Regions from separate parts of the Homo sapiens genome. Here region 1 is linked to region 2. The links come from fine-mapping of genetic effects on gene expression. A gene starts in region 2. The other region holds a variant in brackets. All regions are shown on one strand. Distances are between the middles of the regions.

Region 1 (9,901 bases), 490 kb before region 2:
TGTCATTATGGGTCAGACATAGTCAGTTCAGAATACACAGCTCAGCCCACTATGGTACCCTATATCAAGCATTTAGTCTGTAAAAGAACCCAGAAGCATGCTAGAAACTGCTTATAAGAAAATAGTAATCTGTGAAGGATTACATATCTTTACTCCAAAATCACAAATGTCACTGTTGTAATTCAATTATAGCTGTCTTTAAAAATCCACTAAGAGTATATTTAACTTTTACAACATTTCATCATAATGCCTTCATAGAACTCAAATGGCAGAGTAGCTTTAACAGCAGCCTGAACCTGATGCAGGGCCTCCTCGAAGTCTAGGTTTCATACAAATCTAGCAGCAGTTCTAACCACTGAGTAAATAGGTGGAAGTAGCACCCCAAATTGGGATATGTATTGCCTCTAAAACCACAGTGCTCAGTAGGCATTGTGTCTCTTCTTTATGACAGGAGAGAACAGATACACTTGTTTTTTACCTTGAAAGGATGTCAGCATTCCCCAGATCAGTCAGATCTTAGAATTATCATTGAGAAATCTTTGCACATCTTTGAAATTGTCTGTTATTTTTTTCCCCACCCTCTGGCATGCATGTATCATATTGCAGTGCTTAGGATTATTACCGCTTCCTGTAATTATTATGATGTCATTGACGTGGGCTAATTTGATGTTCTGTGAAATGAAGAGATGATCAAAGTCCTTGCAGATTAGACTATGACTGAGAGTTGGAGAGTGATATAATCCTGTGGTGAGAAAGTATACTGTCATTACTAAGATTCATAGGGAAAAGTATTTAACAGATTGATGGCTGCTTTTCAAATACCAAGGGATATGTTGATTTTCTCCAGTAACTAAACCAACCCTAAATCTAAAGCAATACTGCAATTAGAATCTCCACTTGATAAAATTTATAATAATTCTTTCTCTTTTCCCAAGACCCATCTGTGTTTTGTTTCAGCCAAAAAGGCAAATTTTATAGAAGAAACGATTAGAATCACTTAACTGGATGTTAGCACTAACCTCTGCAATCCTGCCAGGAAAACACAGTATTGTCTTGCCTTTAGTATTTTAATAGGTAGAAGCAATTTTTCTTTCTTTCACTTTGTCTTTCCTAGTATATTAAAGTAGCCCATGGGTCTATATTAGTGTGGAAACTAGTGTGGGCTTATGCCGGTTGCTTTGTATGTCTATTCCAAATATACATCCTAAAATTTGGAAAATCATCATGGGTAGATGCAGACACACAGTGCTCACTGTGAGATGGACATAAAACACAACTCTATTAATCTTGGCAGGTGAATAATGCTAGTGTTGGGTCTTCAGAAAATAGTGCGCTCCAAACAACGAGTAATCCCCAAATCCTAACTACTTCCCCTAATGCACAGTCATCTGGGAAAATGACTAGGGGTTCCTTGGGGAAGGCTGGGGTAAGATGTATAGTATAAATGTTAACAGTGTAGCAGAGTCCTTTCATTTTTGTGTTCCACTCACAATGTGTTTTTCAAAGCATCAATGCAGAGAATGTCTTCTGGACTCTCACAATGGAGACATAGTTATGGGCAGGAGACCAGCTATCATGTAATAAATCCACTCCAACTTTCTAATCTCTGTAAGCATTTGGATAACTTTTTCTATAACAAATGAAGAAATTTGGCACTTAAGTTTGTTCAGTATAAACTACCTATGTTTAGTTCCAAATTTCAATCAGCCACCCAAGCAGAGTAACTCCTGGCCTCATGAGCTAACTCATTTATCCAGGATGTCTGCATAGTGCAACTGTATCAATATATTTGACCCGATGGAAAATTTTTACCCAGATCCCAAACACATAGCATTCAAGTTTTGTGGGCAACTTTACATCTACTTTTATTGTGGATGTTATATATGGATTTTTGTGATTGTTGTTTGATTTGACTTTTTATAGAGAGATATGAGAAGCCTTAAACATTTTATGCCACTGCTGCTGTAAATTTCCCAACTTATTTTTCAAACAAGTTATTTATTCAAAGGTAACTGATTTTCTGCTTTTCTTACTAAATACAAAATTGTGCCTTTTGAATAATATTCTATTTAATATTGTATATATGTACAGATAATACATAATGTTGACTAAAATGAGCTTGATTTTGCAACTTGTGTTAGTAATTTCAAAAGAACAAGAACATAAATTGAAAAAAAGAGATACTTGTTTACTTATTCATACTTTATATATTTTAGTGTAGATGTGCACTAAAATTAGTGCAAATCTAAATGTCAACAATGCATATAATACTATAGCAAGAAAAACAGAAATCCCGCACAAGATCAACTCTAAGAAGTAAATTAACACTGTAGTCATGGAAACAGGTGTTCTCTTTTTTCTTTTTAACTAAATATGCACATTTGACTCCAACAAGGAGACTGGGGCTTCTGCATGTTGTATCTACAGTAAGAACTTTTCAAAAAATGACACTTGTTTATTAGAATTATTTAGGGACTATGTTGGATCACAAAGACTACCTGAGAAGAAGAACCCTCTCTGGCAATTATCCTTTGGGGTCAGCGCCTCTGAGTTGCTTCTGCATTCATAGCCTCTTCCCTTCCTGTTCTGACTTAACCAGTTCCTTCACAGCTTCAGACTTTATTCTCAGTGTCTCTCATAAAAACAGCAGCCTTTTGTGAACTGGTGGTGAGGAGAGGAAGTATGTGGGAAGAGTTTTTATAAAGGATTTATGCTCCCTTAATTTGCTGTTGAGTTCAGAGCTACCTGCTCATTAAAAATCTCCCTCGTACTCCTAGCCCCATCCACATTTAGCCTGCCAAAACAATCAATTGAATATTTAACTAGCATGAAAAATAATTTTCCTTTTAGTATAGTTATTTCATTTATGCTACCAATGTAAAGCACATAAGGTGATCAAATAAAAATCAAAGTTGCCACATTTAGTTTTGTTTCAGTTTAAGTCAAGGGAAAGTGTATATAGTAAATATTTTATTTTTAATTTCATTAATCTCTAAAGTAATTGAATAGCCTTTTCTTTCATGATCTCTCTGTCTTCTCTCTCTCTGTCTCTGTGCGTGTGTGTGTGTGTGTGTGTGTGTCTATTTTAAGAGATTTTCTGCAATAAGAAGGCGCTTTTAATCTCGGGTGACATTCTCTAGTTCACTGAAATTATTTTATTTATCCAGAGACTTTGGGAAACTCTTTTTTCATAGTAATGTGTGTAATAATTTCATACAGAGCTTATTTATTTTTTCCAAATTTACTGCTCTTTATGATATAGACTAATTTGGTTTTCATTTTTTTTGCTTAGTCTTATATTTTTCATTATTTCAGCCTCTGAAGAATAATGTTTTTATTAACACAGTTTCATCTGGAACTGTACTTCCCAAAACAGACAAAAAACAGAAACTCCTATTTCTGTTGAAATTCTTCTGTCCTTAAAGGTCAGCTCAATTGTGTTTTCTTTCTGCGGTTTTTCCCAATTTCTTGGGTCTGAAGTGTCTTTTCTATTTTGTATGATTCTTGAGCACATTGCAATACTAAAAACAAAACAAAACACTTTTTATGTAATGACATTTGACATCTAGGAAAAGTACATATGAAGGCTTTAAAATCACCAAATGTGTAAACACAATTTAGTTTACAATTTTTCCTTTCCCAGCTGTAAGAATTGAGCAAACTATAAATTTTCCTTTTTCTTGTTTGCACATAAAATAATGTAAGACTCATCCATAGTCTTGATCAATTTACCATTTAGCACTTTGTTTCAAACTTCTATTTCCTGGTAAAAGTTGTACGTGGGAGAATTTTTTTTAAATATCTACTTTTTCTTCACGTCTATCGCAGCACTAGAAGCTCCTCGTTGAAATGGGTATGCTGCAGAGATGATCAGGATTCACTCACCAGATGAATTGTTCCTACACACAAGTTAATGTAGAGCCAAAAAGTGGTTACACATTGTAAAGTTTTGAAGCTATTAAAATATTCAAAAGGAAAATTGGTGAAGACTAATGGTCTTTGAAGATTACTTAAATCCCTTAGTGGATTAAATGTATATTTAAAGAACAATCTTGTGTTGATGAACTTTTTTGTCTTTAAATGCAACACAGTGCCTAGGTCAGTGTTTACACAAAAGTGATTTTGCAAAAAAAGAAAAAAAAACAGGTGAATTGATTATAATACAGTACTTGCTGGGAAGATTAGGGGAAGATAGAGAGTGATAGTTAAGAGCCAGCACTTTGAAATCAGATATACTTTGGTTTTAGATGCCAGGATTTTTGTTCTCTTATTAGATTTCTCACCTTAGAATTTTTTTACTCTATTAATGTCTTGGACAATTTCATCCACAAAGTGGAGTAGAAAATAATGGTAGACACTTTTCAAAATTCTCCTTATGATTAAATGAGGTAATACAGTCATTGTAGGGGATTGATTCCAGGACACCCTGCATATGCCAAACTCTACAGATGCTCAAGTCCAGAAGCTGGCCATGTGAAACCTGGGGTTATTGTATTTTGGATCTGAGATTGATTTAATTGACAGCTGTGGAACCCAGGGGTACAGAACCCACAGAAAGGGAGGATTGACTACATTTAATTTTTTCTTCTTCTTTTTTTTTTTTTTTTCTGGAGACAGAGTCTTGCTGTATCACCCAGGCTGGAGTACAGTGGTGCAATTTCAGCTCACCACAAGCTCCACCTCCCAGGTTCAAGTGATTCTCATGCCTCAGCCTCCTGAGTAGCTGGGACTACAGGTGTGCACCACTACGCCCAGCTAATTTTTATACTTTTAGTAAAGATGGACTTTCTCCATGTTGGCTAGGCTGGTCTCAAACTCTTGACCTCAGGTGATCTGCCTGCCTTGGACTCCCAAAGTGCTGGTGTTACAGGCGTAAGTCCCCGTGCCCGGCTGACTATATTTAGTTTAATTTTACCAGTAAAAAGCATTCAATGGAGAATATTCATTTTGATCTATTTGAATTATATATTTTTTTGTTTTCTGTAAAAATGTGCATGGAATGAAATGCTAAGAAATCATTGAACTGGCAGAAAACTAAAAACAATGGCAAGTATTCTTTACTGAGATAAAACCTATTCTGAGGGGCTCAAACATAAGCATAATGCATGGATCCTTAGTAACTAAAAAGAGTACAACGTTAGGTTGTTGTAAAATACAAAAATGTTAATATAGAAATGCTTTGCACAGAGCAACTGCTTTCTCTTAGCTGAATATCAAGAAATGTTTTCTTTTTTGTGATACCAATAGCTCTTGAGATATAGGATGATGCTATTTCAAAAATTCTGGTGGCTGAGAAGGAATTACTGCTCTCTCTATTTTGTTGTATAGTAAGTCTTCACTAGGAAAGCTACTTGTGAATGCCAAATAGTTCTTGTGGAGAGATCTGTAATGATTCTTCTCTTGCTAGGATCCTGGACCTTCATAGCAATGCCACAGCAGACCACCTGCACTGAGATTTTGAGATTCCTTGCCTTCAGTTATATCAACAGAAAATTATATTTGTCTAACTCCATTGCTCTG[C/G]AATGTAACCTATTTTTATGCTCAAACTCATTGAAACATGAGCTCACAAAAAAGCAATAGCAAAACAAACACTATCATAGTTTCCCATCATAAATCTGTCTGGTTAAAAATAGAGAAGACACTTTTTTTCTTTCTTTTTTTTTTTTTTTTTGAGACAGAATCTCTCTCTGCTGCCCAGGCTGGAGTGCAGTGGGATGATCTCGGCTCATTGAAACCTCCACCTCCAGGTTCAAGCGATACTCCTGCCTCAGGCTCCCGAGTAGCTGGGACTACAAGTGTGCACCACGATGCCCAGGTAATGTTTATATTTTTTGTAGAGATGAGGTTTCATCATGTTGGCCAGGCTGGTCTCCAACTCCTGACCTTAGGTGATCCACCCGCCTTGACCTCCCAAAGTGCTGGAATTACAGGTATAAGCCACCATGCCTGGCTGGCAAGATACTTATTGAAACAATAACTCTTTATGTCATAGAACTGCTTCTATATTTGGACCCGTGTAATAAAAGTCTAGAATGTGTCTTGCTTTTTCCCACTAAAAATGTAAGAGGATGTGCCACAGACCCCTCCTTCCCCCGACTCCAGATTTTGGTCTAGCAATATGTTTAAGGGAGTTAAGTTCAGTGATATAACTTGTATACGTTTTGTGTCCAACAAGCTTTCATTTTAAATCATTTTCAGTACAGTTCATTGTTAGAAGCATTTCTATCATTCAAGTGAATTGCTGTACTTCTGGGATTAGAATGTAGAGAAAACAGCATTAACTTTAAGGACTCAAACTTCTCATGAACTACTTCTTTTTTCTTTTTTTTGAGAGGGTCTTGTAGTAGAGCACATCCAATATTTTGAAAGATTTATGTTTTGGTAGCTGATTTTATTGATCTACTGATCCATCCACCCATCCATCCATTAATCTACAGGCCCTGGACACATAAACATAGTTTCAAGGATGTAATAGTCTATGATAGAGATAGTCAATATAACAAGCAACGGCAGGCACAATCAAAACTCATTTGCAGGCATAAGTGCAGGAAAGCCTAGCGCAGAACAGGGAATCAGAGGAAGCTTTGGGAGGGCAATACATTTGTGTTATTACATGGAAGATGAAAACATTTGTCTCCTAGTGATCTAGCATGGGAATACAGCATGTCAGACTAGAAGAACCAGTATTAAAAAAGGATTCATTTTTTACTTTTTACCCAAAAGTATGTATATGTGTGTGTGTGTGTGTGTGTGTGTGTGTGTGTGTGTGTGTGTGTGTGTTGTGTACCCTCAAAATTTGAGACTGGTCTCAGTTAATTTAGAAAGTTTATTTTGCCAAGGTTGAGGATGCTCACAGGTGACACAGTCTCAGGAGGTCCTGACAACATGTGCCCAAAGTGGTTAGAGCACAGTTTGGTTTTATATATTTTAGGGAGACATGAGACATAAATCAACATATGTAACACGAATGTTGGTTCGGTCTAGAAAGGTGGGACAACTCAAAGCGGGGAGGGGACTTCCAGGTCATAGGTAGGTAAGAGACAAATGATTATATACATTTGAGTTTCTAATTAGCCTCTCCAAAGGAGGCAATCAGATATGCATTTATCTCAGTGAGCAGAGGGGTGACTTTGCGTAGAGTAGGAGGCAGGTTTGCCCTAAGCAGTTCCCAGCTTGACTTTTCCCTTTAGTTTAATGATTTTGGGGCCCCAAGATTTATTTTCCTTTCACAGTATGCATATATTATTAATATATATGTGTATTTTATGTCTGTGTGTGTGTGTGTGCATGTGTGTTTATATACATATATGGAGGGAGAGAGAGAGATTTGTTTTAAGGAACTAGCTAATGTGATTATGAAGGATGGCAAGTCCAAAATCTGTAGCATAAGCCCACAGACTGGAGAGTTGGCATGGAATGTTGATCCCAAAGACAGTCTGGAGGCAGAATTTCCTCTTCATAAGGGATCTCAGCCTGTTTTTTCTTAAGGCCTTTAAGGTAATCTGCTTCCCTCAACGTCTACTGATTTAAATATTAATCTCATCTAAACAATAACTTCATGTAACATCCAGACTGGTGTTTGACCAAATATCTGGGTAATGTGGCCTACTAAAGTTGACACAAAGTTGATAATCACATACCCCCTTACATTAATGAATGGAAACATCTCAAAGAAGGGAAACTGTGAGTATTCATAACATAGATAAAGGCCAAGTTACTGATGATCGAATAAGCCAAAGGCAATTCTCAGAAAATAATTTGTCAGATAACCAATTTGGTAAATTAGCAAAAACAACTATTAAACTATTTTTATAAGTTTACAACATATTATGTGGAATGATTTTTTACAATATTTGTAGACTTCTATGAAGCTTAAAGAATGGTTTTATTTTGTCTTTATAGTAGCATGTTAAGAAATATTATATTGGTTTTAAATAAAGGGGTAGAGAGTAGCTTAGTCTCATAAATATACTGAATATTCAAAGTAGTATGCTCCATAATTAATAAGCAACATTTCAGCAATTCATATAATATACGTATTTATCTTGATTCCTTTCAAATAATATATAGTTGCTGTTTTGTCAACAATTTTATTATTTCAAAATTATTTTCTTCAGTTTTTAAAGAGCGTACCAACCGTACCATACTGTGTTGATCACGATAGCTTCATAATATAGTTTAAAGCCATTTATTGATAACTTCTAGTTAATTGTACCTAAGATTTAATATGTGTTATAGTTTATCTTGTTCCTAAGTGCATGTCTTACACTAGCAGTATTTTAGAATGGTCAACTATTTGCTTCTGTTTTTCCTTCAGAAATTGTACTTGTGTTAACGTGTCACATTTGTTATGATAATCATATTATTTATTTAAAATCTCTTCCTTGCATCCTCACTTTTTTCCTTTTGTTTTGTGTGGCCCCATGCTTTCATGATAATTTTTTTCCACAAAATAAAATTGCTCCTTATTTTAAAATTTCATTACTGATTACAAAATATACTTCTCTGAATGGAAAACATGCTTTTAAAACTTTAAATTGTCTTAGAATCTCTCATTTAAAAAACCTGAACAATTAAAAATATGTGGGTATGTAGAAAGAGGTAACTAAATATAACAAAAACTTTCAAAAGTTAAGAAAACCAAACTGATACAAATATGAACAATTAAAATAGATTTTGAAAGTTGAAAAATGCAGTGAGTTCTGAGATTTAGCCTTTTAGTAAATTCTTTTTTTTTTTTTAGCAATTGTCTTTTGATAAGTGGATTTATAGTTTGTTTAGAACTTATCACGTACTTAAAGCACAAATATTGTTTATTTAATTTTGAAAATTCATGAAGTCTTCAAAAATCTTATAAAGACCTTTAGAATATCTAGATATCCAACTTTTCTGACACCATTTATTGAAGAGACTACCCTTTCCCAATTTTGTATTCCAGGCCTCCTTTTCAAAAACTAGTTGACTGTATGTGTGTGGGTTTATTTCAGGGGTCTCTATTCTGTTCTATTGATATATGTGTCTGCTTTTATGCCAGCACCATACTGTTTTGATTACTATAACTTTGTAATATACTTTAAAGCCAGGAAGTATGATGTCTTCAGCTTCATTCCTCTTTCTTAAAATTGCTTTGGCTATTGCAGGACTTTTGTGAATCCATATGAATTTTAGGATTGCTTTTCTATTTCTGTGAAAAATAACTTTGGAATTTTGATAGGCATTGATTGAATTTGTAAATTGCTTTGAATGGTATGAATATTTTAATGATATTAAGTCTTCCAATACATGAACACAGGATATCTTTCCAGTGATTTATGTCTTCCCCAATTTATTTCATCAGTGTTTTATAGTTTCAGTGTACAGCTCTTTGGACCCCTTGGCTAAATTTATTCCTAAGTACTGTATTTTTCTGATGCTATTGTAAATGGTGTTATTTTCTTAATACCTTTTTCAGATAATTTATTGTGAGTTTGTAAAAACACGACTGATTTTTCACATATGATTTTCTGTCCTGCAAATTTACCGAATATATTTATTAAATACGATAGTTTTTTAGTAGAGTCTTTAGAGTGTTCTATATATAAGATCATGTCATTTGCAAACAGAGACAACTTTCTTTTTAATTTGGATGTATTTTTTTTTGTCTAGTTGCTCTGGCTGTTAATTCCAGCATATGCTGAACAGAAGTGACAAGAGTGGGCATCTTTACCTTGTTTCTGATCTTTGAGGAAAAGTTTTCAGTTTCTAACCATTGAATATGACAGTAGCTTGGGCTTTATTATGTTGAGGTACACTCCTTATATACATAATTTGTTGAGCATTTTTATAATAAAAGAATGTTTAATTTTGTGAAATGCTTCTTCTACATCTATCAAGATGATCATATTCTTTTCATCTTTCATTC
Region 2 (9,901 bases):
GTGTGGTGGAAAATATTTTTTAAAGATATATATGTGTGTGTGTATATATATATATATATATATATATATATATATATACATATAATGCACAGTATATAGGGGATGATGCACAGGTAGGAGCTGGCAGTGCAGAGAGGAGACATTGATCTGAAGAAACAGCTCCTAACAGCTTATGGGGCACTCACCCTGTGCTCAAGCAATCATTGTCAATGACAAAGTGGCCATTTAAGTTATAATTGTATTAAATTAGGCCAAGCACGGTGGCTCATGACTGTAATCCCAGCACTTTGGGAGTCCGAGGTGGGTGGATCAGGATGTCAGGAGTTGGAGATCAGCCTGGCCAACATGGTGAAATCCCGTCTATACTAAAAATACAAAAATTAGCCAGGTGTGGTGGCGCAGACCTGTAATCCCAGTTACAAGGGGAGGCTGAGCCAGGAGAATCACCTGAACTCGGGAAGTGGAGGTTGCAGTGAGCCGAGATCGCACCACTGCACTCCAGCCTAGGCAACAGAGTGAGACTGCATCTCAAAAAAATAATAATAATTAATTAATGCTAATAATTTGTATGTTTTATTTGGAGAGCTTGAGTAACTTTAACTCCTAACTAAGCATATGTGTTTCCTTGGTTTTGGTTTCGTGTCTTTTTTCTTTTGGGTTGATGTGTAACATGTTTGAGTATAGGAAATAGTGGGTTATTCTTTTGGCTTTGCTATTCACGGTGAATTATAAAATATAAATTTTTGTGAGATTTCGAAGATTATATTTCAAAGATTATATTAAAAGATAACATTGCTTACAGATTTAAAAGATGTGATTATCACAAGAATGTGATAGTGGGGGGATAAAATAACTAACAGAATAAATATTTTTTAGGATAAAAATATTTATTTTATAAAAATAAAATAAAAATGGTTTCAAATATTTCAAATGGTAACTTTCTCTACCCACTGTCACAGCCGTGAGGGTCTCTCTCTTACCTCTTCACAATGATAAGTTGGTGGGGTTCCTAGAAGTAAAAACCCACCAAAGTATGGAAGCCTCCATAAATGGTACCTCTGAGTTTCTTATGCTCGTGCTGATTGAAACTCAGCCTCATCAAAAAGCTTCAGCAGTTCAGAAGAATTACCTTATAAATGTTACTACCAGTTTATGGCTTTGGAAACTTCTGCTCCAAATAAGCAGACTCCAGTTATGACCCTCTGTATTTGCCTGTCTCCAGATTTCAGGATGATGATTTGCTCTATGACTTCAGTTCTCTAATGGGTCCAATAAAATTCATTGATTTCAGTTTGCTCAGCTTTTTTCTCTTGTTGAAAGAGTGTATGTAACATTCAAGTTGATAAGCTATTGTCATCAACACAGTTTTTAAAAATTGTATTTTGTTTACAACTTGTTTATTAAGACTTTATAGTGACAGTTACATTATGCTTATTAATGTTCCTGGTGACAGACCTTTATTTGAATTTTATATATGATTTAAACTTGTCTTCATATTGGAAATATTTAAGGAATTTTGATACTTATATTCACTTCCATCAAACCAAGATCCCAAAGGTTAAAAAGAATCATTAACTAATTTAGTAGTTGGAGACTCAATAGAGTGATTTCAATTGAGTTTGAACTTTAAATTAATTGTTATAATACCTGATAAGTCTGGCTTCCTAAAGTATCATTTCTTTATCTTATCATTCCACATTTTGAACTACATACGAAAATAAAAGTCATTTGAAAATTTACCTATAGCTTGGAAGAAATTTTGAAATTTAACCACACATGTATGTGTGTATACATGTGCACACACACACAACTTATTCCCACAGGTATTTCCTGTAGCAGTTAATAATACACCTTCCATATATTACATATTTAGTAAAGCTTTTAAAAATGATTCAATTTATGTAAAACATACAAAGAAAGCATATTAATCTTTTACTGAGACGGGAAACTGATGGATCAAAATATATGTGAGTTGACATTGTTAGCCACTATCCTTAAGGTGGATATCAGTTTAACATGGTAACATATTCCTGTTCACTTTTTGGATAATAGGCAGTAGGCTTTTGTGCGTCCATCTGGAAATTGGTTGTTGGGGACCATTCAATGATCTGGTTTTGGCCAAAATGCCCATATGGGTTTGTCAGATAATATTATAATTCTTTGGCACCATGCATAAAGAGTAGTCCAGCAACAGGAAATGAAATTCATTTTCTCACTGATGTTGGTTGAGTACAGAGGCCAGTTTGTCCTACATGTGTGCGTAATGTCACATGCCTTTTTAAGAAGACTTCACTTGGGGCCACCAGAAGCCACTCTAAGTGGGCCAGAGGTGATTTTCATATTATAGCTTTTATTTCTCTTGTTGAAAAATTGTATGTAACATTTGAGTTGATTGACTGTTTTCATAAATACAGGTTTTTAAAAACGTGTTTGTTTACATCTTGTTTATAAATTTTGTTTATACTCATCTTGTTTATACTTTCTGGTGACAATTCCATTGTGCTTATTATTCTAGTTTTCTTACTGTAGAACCAAAGACTGGCATAGTATAATATTCTCTTTGAACTTCTTCAAAGATGTAGTCTCTGAGTGTTGTGGGTTAGAGATCTTGGTGAGAACTACCCATTGGTGTAATGATCAATCGACATTTTCTTTTGCTTTGATGATGTCCCTTTTTGAACTGATATCCACCTTGATAATAGTCAACTTCTTAGGAACCATTAGAGTTATTAAAATACTTTTAATCTGCTAACCATTCTAAATTATGGATAATGTAAGATAATTACATTATCTTACTGCAAAGATACTTACATTAAGCATCTTTATTTTCTCTGAAGCTTTTCGAAATCATGAACCATCCCAAAACATTTCTATTATTAGTGTATATAAACCTTCTTTCCTTTATTCATCCAGCAAGCTATGGGAATGGAAACAATTATGTTATCTAAGAATATTTTCATTTCTGGAAAGGGGTCAAAATGGTGAGTTAAAATTTGTTCCAGTGTTTTCTGCCTGATATTTTCTGGTTTCATTCTTAGGATATGACCTACAAACAAATCAAGATTAAATCTGGATTTCTGGGCATGCTTTAATTAATTTATTAGCGTGTTTTAATAAATTTACTAGATATTCAGGAAGCAGTGGTTAGGGGGCCATGAGCTTCCCTCTTCTAATGGAAGAAGATTAATAGTATTTAAAGTATTACAGTGATGAACAGAAACATGGAAAGAAGAAAGTAATTCAATTTTAGAAAGTAAGCCTACTTTCTTAGGAAATATTGCATACTTTTAATGGGCAGCAAAGACTGGCAAAATAGGGAACCATTAAGTTTAAGGTAGAAAGTAAAACTGTTAGTAGAAGCCTCCATCAAGTTTCAACTTCTGCTTTCAGCTTAGGAAAGTAGGATTTTGACATTGGGTTAGTAGAAAAATAGTTGCATGATACTGGTTTGTTGAGATGGAAGAGATATTTGACTTGTTCAGATCTTTTATGTATGAATAGGTAACATGATTCATGATGACGCAGGCTCATAATGAGAGGTTGTTGAAGGGCTAATTTTTAAAGCATGAAATGCCTATATATGCATAAATTCTCAGATAAGAGATTTGATTAACAAAGATTTGGTTAAGTGATACAGTATTGTGTCAATTTCTGAAAGTCAACGTGGCAGACAGAATAAGAAAATGACTCCTAAAATGCCCAGATGTGCATGTTCTTGTATAACCCTCTCCCTTGAATATAAGTAGGATCTTTGAATATGATAAATGTCACTTGAGTGATTGGATTATGTAACACAGAAAAGGTGAAAGGGTTTTGCCGCTGTAACTGAGATCTCTAATTAGTTGACTTTGACTCAAAAGGGACATTATTCTGGATGGGCACTGACTTAATCAGGTGAAAGCCATAAAAGCAAAAGAATCTCTAGCTAGCCTTAAAGAGAAACAGCTGTATTGAAAGCTGCCAGTAAAGAGGGGGAGCCTCTAAAAGGAGAGGACCTTGATGCTACAACCACAAGTAACTAAATTCTACCAACATTAATGAGCTTGGAAGAGAACTTTGAGCTCCAGAAGAGAACTGCAACGTGGCTAATGCCTTGATTTCGGCTTGTGAGACCCTGAACAAAGGACCTAGTTAAGCCTTACCCAAACTCCTCATCCACAGAAACTGTGGTGTGATAAATGTGTGTTGCTTTTTGCGCCTAACTCTGTGCTAATTTAATATCTAGCCACAGAAAATGAATACATTTGGAAACCCATTGTTGGCTATAGTGAATGAGACCCAAAGAATCATCTCTAAAATCTCCTGGTTACTAACTAGAAAAATTCTGAATGGTTATGATCTTTCAGAAAAGAGAAATTTACCTCCTTGGGATATATTATGCTTCAGATGATACACTTTACTTTGAGAAAAAATTTTAGTCCCCATCAGAAAGTTTATAGACTATTAGAGATAAAACAAGTAATTAGATGGATGGAGTCAGTCCTAGAGCTCAGCTAAACTTTAGAATGCCACAAAGTATGGTAGAATATAGGGAAATGTAAGTTCCTTGAGGCCCTGGTTAAAGACTTTTAAAAATTAAGACAATATCTCAATAAGCCCTAAGTCATAATTACCAGTGTACGTTATCGAATTTCTCAGAAGAAAGCAAACATATGACTCTGAATTAAACAGATTCTAAAGGAACAGAAAACAGATTTACAGCTGTAAAATATGCAATTTCATTATGCACCAAAGACAAAATAATATTTGAATTTGTTACTACAGAGAAGTGGGAGATCATTATTCAATTTATACTCCTGAGATTCTGAACAAATTTATATCACTGCCCTGTGTTTTTTTTTCTTTTTCTTTTTTTTAAATTTAGAGAAGTACTACAAGGAATAGTACAAAGTTTCATGATTCATTTCTCAATTAGGTTTTCATCTATTGATTTTAGTGCTTTGTTAGGCCTTGGTTTTAGAGGGTATGGGGCAAGTTTGGGCAGATATTTGGAGGGTTTAGTCTGAAACTGATAGGTTCAGCCTAAACAGTATTACAAAATCAGTTTAATCTATGCCCAGAAGTATGACTACTTCTTTGACCTTCAATTTGTGTAAAGAGTACAGGTAAGGCAAGGTTTAAATAGCTATAACCTGCTTGTGATCGAGGGCGTCCTCAGGAAATGTGCAGGAACAGGCCATCAGGAGAGCTTTTATTTTATAGGAGATACTCACACCACCCCATTTGGTTAGTGGATGTGATGTCACAAAGGAGGAAAGAATGTTTCTCAATTAAGAGTCTGAGGGCGACAGTTATGCACTGGGGCATGCAAAGTGTTTGAGGTTTATTAGCGGTACCCGGCACCTGATAGTTATTCAGTCCCAGGGAGAAGTTAGGTAACAATGTCAAGATGTATGACAGATGTCACAGGGCCTATCAATCAAAATGTTGAGGTTTTTTTCTTTAATAATTAGAGAACTTTGCCTTTATGCAATGAAGGGACATTGAGCGATTTATTCCCCCTTGCAGAAACTTCAATAATTATCCCATTTGTATTTGTTCCCTTTTGTTTCCTAGCTGTAAGAGTGAAATTATTTTTCCTATACTCTTTCAGTTTAAAGTGTACAAAACCGTCTTTTTCAAGAGTACTCTAGGGTTTAACAACTATAGTGTTTTTACTTGAATCCCAAAGTAAACAGCATCTTTTTGAAATTCTCAACGTATAGACCATTGTTGCAGCTGTTTTTTTCATTTATTTTTAATTTTTTAATGATTAAATCCTTAAAGAAGAGTTGCAAAGCTTGTAGAGTTTTCATATATGCTTCATCTAGCTTCCCCTAATGTTAACATCTTGAATAACCATGATACATTTATTAAAAGTAAAAAATTACCATTGGTATAATACTATTAACTAAGTTACAGACTTCATTAGGATTTGCCTGTATTTTCCCCTAATTTTTTTTTCATTTCCAGGATCCAGTCCAGGTTACCACATTACTAAGTCATCGTATCCCCTTAGTTTCCTCCAGTTTGTGACAGTTTGTCAGTTTTTCCTTGTTGTTCATTACCAATATACTTTGGAAGGTATTTTGTAGAATGGCCCTTGATATGGGTTTCTGTGGTTCTCACAGTGCAACTGAGGTATGGATTTTGTGAAGAATATCATTTAAAGCCTTTTTCTAATATGTCAGGGAAACTTGATATCAACATGATTTGTTATTGGAGATGGCTTACTTTGACACCATGGCTAAGTTAGCGACTGATAGATTTCTCCACTGGAAAGCTGCCTTTTGTCTCTTTTCCTGCTCTATTCATTAGAAGCTTCTTAACAAATCTAACCCACCCTCAAGCTCCACCATGGAGAGAGGAGTATCAGAGAATTTACAGGCATATGTTTCAACTACCATAGTACTTAATAAATATTTTGGGGAGATATTTTCAGACCTGTTGACTTGTTATTTCTGCCATTCTTCTACATTCACCATTTGTAAAGAAGCTTTTCCCTTTCTTCATCAATTAATTTATTTGATTATTTATAACAGTATGGGCACGTGTTTATTTGATCTAATGGATGTAATTCAATAATGACATTGTTTATTTTGTTACTCAAGTTGTTCTAGGGTTGTCTTGGGAGATTTTTTGAGGTTTCAGGATAACTCTTGGATCACTTTGACATGCCCTATGTATTTATCTGTATGTTTATGTATTTATCAGCCCTTGCTTGCTTTCTAGCACCAGAGGATGCTCCAGAATCATTTGTATTTTTCCTGCCCAAGCCCCATATTTTCTCCAAATATGACCAAAGAAATCAGTCATTTCTCTAAATATGATTGCAGAATCATATTTAGAATCCATGATATAAACAACAGTGGTGCTCATTGCTATAGAACTATCATTGCTTGTTTACTTTTTCTGGAAAGAGAGAGAAAGTTATATGTACATATGCACACGTTTATATGTATTTCTGTATTTACTTATATTTATGCATATTAAAAGAAACAAGAACTCAATCTTTTATTTCCAATTGTAACTCATGGCCACAGTGGTCATTCTAGCCTCTCCCACTTGCTCATTTGTAATTTCCTTTTTCGATATAAAGAATTTGGTTCCCATTCCATTCCATGTAGTGAACTGTCTACATTTTGTTTACTTACTTGTACAACTTTAGGAGTTGTAGTTCCAGAATGGCTAAATTTACCCTGTGAGATCAAAATTACCAGCTAAAATAAAGTGCTTATGTAAAGTTCTTTCTGCCTTTAATTTTATGGTCTAGTCAAAACATTGTTCCCAACGTTATTGTGAGCTCTTTCTTGTTTCTCTCACACACTTCAGTGAGATTAAACCCTGTACTTAGATTTATTTGGCACAGTCTTCATTTCATCCTTGGATTTCCAAAAGCTTAGTTTTTATTTTAATATGAGTACATTTAATGCACTATTTTGTATGGTTTCTGAAATTTTGAAAAATGCGTAGTGTCATTTGTACATCACTGCAGAACCATATAAAACAGTTGCCTCATTCTAAATTTCCATTGTGTGCTCTCCAGTGATCAAAACTAAATGTCCTGATCAACAACTGATTTTTTTTTCTCATTTAGCAAAATGTCATGTAAATGAAATTATACAGTATACAGCCCTTTGGGTCTTGCTGCTTTCATTTGGCAAAATGAAATCAAGATTTCTTCATATTGTTGTATGAATCAACAGTTTCTTTTTAGTGCTGAGTAATGTTTCTTTGTATAGGTACTTTGCAGCATGTTAATCTACTCATATGTTAAAGGGAATCCTGGTTATTTTTGCTTTGTGGTGATTATAAAGCTTTTAGAAAAATTTGCATACAGGTTTCAGGTTTTGTGCACACAGACTTTTACTAATTTACCTAGGTTAAAAACTAAACAATGGGGCCGGGCGCGGTGGCTCACACTTGTAATCCCAGCAATTTGGGAGGCCGAGGCAGGCAGATCACAAGGTCAGGAGATCGAGACCATCCTGGCTAACACGGTGAAACCCCGTCTCTACTAAAAATACAAAAAAGTAGCCGGGCGTGGTGGTGGGCGCCTGTAGTCCCAGCTACTCTGGAGGCTGAGGCAGGAGAATGGCGTGAACCCGGGAGGCGGAGCTTGCAGTGAGCCGAGATCGCACCACTGCACTCCAGCCTGGGCAACAGTGTGAGACTCCGTCTCAAAAACAAAAAACAAAAAACAAAAAGAAAAACCAAACATGGTATTGTTGGTTCACACGGTGAATATATATTTAACGTCGTAAGAAACTGTCAGTTTCCAAAGTGGCTGTACATACCATTTTGCAGTCCCAACAGCAATGAAGGAGAGTTTCTGTTTCCTGCATCCTCACAAGCATTTGCTATTATCAATTTTTGTATGTTTGTTTTGTTTTGTTTTCGCCATTCTGATATGTGTGTAGAGGTAACTCAATATGGTTTTGATTGTCATCTGTTTATTTTCTTTCTCAAAATGTTTGAGACCTTTCCCATCTTAGTTAGGTAGTTTGTTTTCTTGTGATTGTTAAATGTTCTCTACATTTCTAGATACAAGTTCTTTATCTCTAATGTAATTTGCAAATATTTTCTACCAGTCTGTTGTTTGTATTTTCACTTTCATTAGAATATATTTTGAAGAGCAAAATGTTTTAATTTTGATAAACTCTATTTATCAAACATAAATAGAAAAACTGTATTTATAAAACATATGGCTCATGCTTTTGCACTATACCTAAGAATTCATTGCTAAGGTCATGCAATCCTCCTTCTCCTAGAACTTTTATAGTTTATGTTTCTATTTGGGTCTATAATCCATTGTGAGTTTATTTTTATATTAGGCATGAAGTGTCTGCCGAGGTGTCATTTATTTATTTTGCATATGGAAGTTCAATTGCTTCAGTACCATTTGCTAAAAAGACTATGCCTTTTCTATTTCTATATTTGTGAAAAATCAGTTGGCTACATTTTGTGGGTCTATTTCTAAGATATTTATTCTGCTCCATTGATTTATGACTTGATCCTTTCATTAATATTGTAGTCTTGAATGCTGTAGCTTTATAACAGTACTATAATGTAGTAGTGTCAGATCCCCCTCACAATTTTTTTCTTTATAAAAATTGTTTGGTTAATCTGGTTCCTTTGCCTTTCCGTATACATTTTGAATCTGCTTGTCAATATTTACAGAAGTTAGTTGGGATTTTTGTTGGGATAAAAATCAGTTTGGTAAGAATTGACATCTCAAATATTAAGTGTTTCAAATACTTAACCCTGTGTAGCTTTCCATTTATTTAGATTGTCTTTTATTTTTTCCATCAGATTTATTTCCTTTTCAGCATACAGATTCTCCACACATTCTGTTATATTTAGTTACACCAAAGCATTTCATTTTAAGTACTATTATAAATTATATAACCCCCATACCAGCTACCTTAAGATTCTCTCTCTCTCTCTCTCTCTCGTGTGTGTGTGTGTGTGTGTGTGTGTGTGTGTGTGTGTGTGTTACTTTGGTTGCTCACTTGCTTGGCTTTCAACAGTTTGAATATGATATATGTAGATGTGTCTTTTTGGAATTTGTCCTGCTTGTTGTTCTCTCAGCTCTTTGGATCTGTGGATTGGTGTCTGTCACTAATTTCAGAAAATTCTTAGGCACATTTTTAAAAAATTTCTTCTGCTCATTATTTCTTCTCCCTTTGATATTCTAATTACACATGTGTTAGACCAGATGATATTGCCTCATAGCTTTTTGTTACTCTGCTCTCTTTTTTCCCACTCTTTTATCTCTTTACATTTTATTTGTGGCAATCTCTATTGACCAATCTAGAAATCCACTGATTATTTTCCTCAGGCTGGGTTGATTTTACAGGAATATCTCATTTTATTAGGCTTTGCTTTCTTAAACTTTGCCAATATTTCATTTTTTACAAAT

Which allele goes with the higher level. Positions count from the first base shown, and alleles are read on the strand shown. Sizes are in standard deviations (SD) of each study's normalised expression.
With allele C in place of G in region 1, the expression in tibial artery of the gene that starts at base 5,246 in region 2 is lower (large effect, 1.0 SD a copy in GTEx).

The links.
Region 1: its variant is fine-mapped to the expression of ADAM29 in tibial artery (GTEx, PIP above 0.99).

Annotation. Positions count from the first base shown.
Region 1 is chr4:175,398,885-175,408,785 of GRCh38, reverse strand. No RefSeq gene overlaps it. Among named protein-coding and RNA genes, the nearest start is that of GPM6A-DT, 390 kb to the left of the region's middle. The variant C/G (reference allele first, on the strand shown) is at 5,521.
Region 2 is chr4:174,913,703-174,923,603 of GRCh38, reverse strand. It overlaps ADAM29 (ADAM metallopeptidase domain 29), which reads right to left and starts at 5,246. Exons shown (of 5, transcript NM_014269.4): 1 at 5,133-5,246; 2 at 2,812-2,917.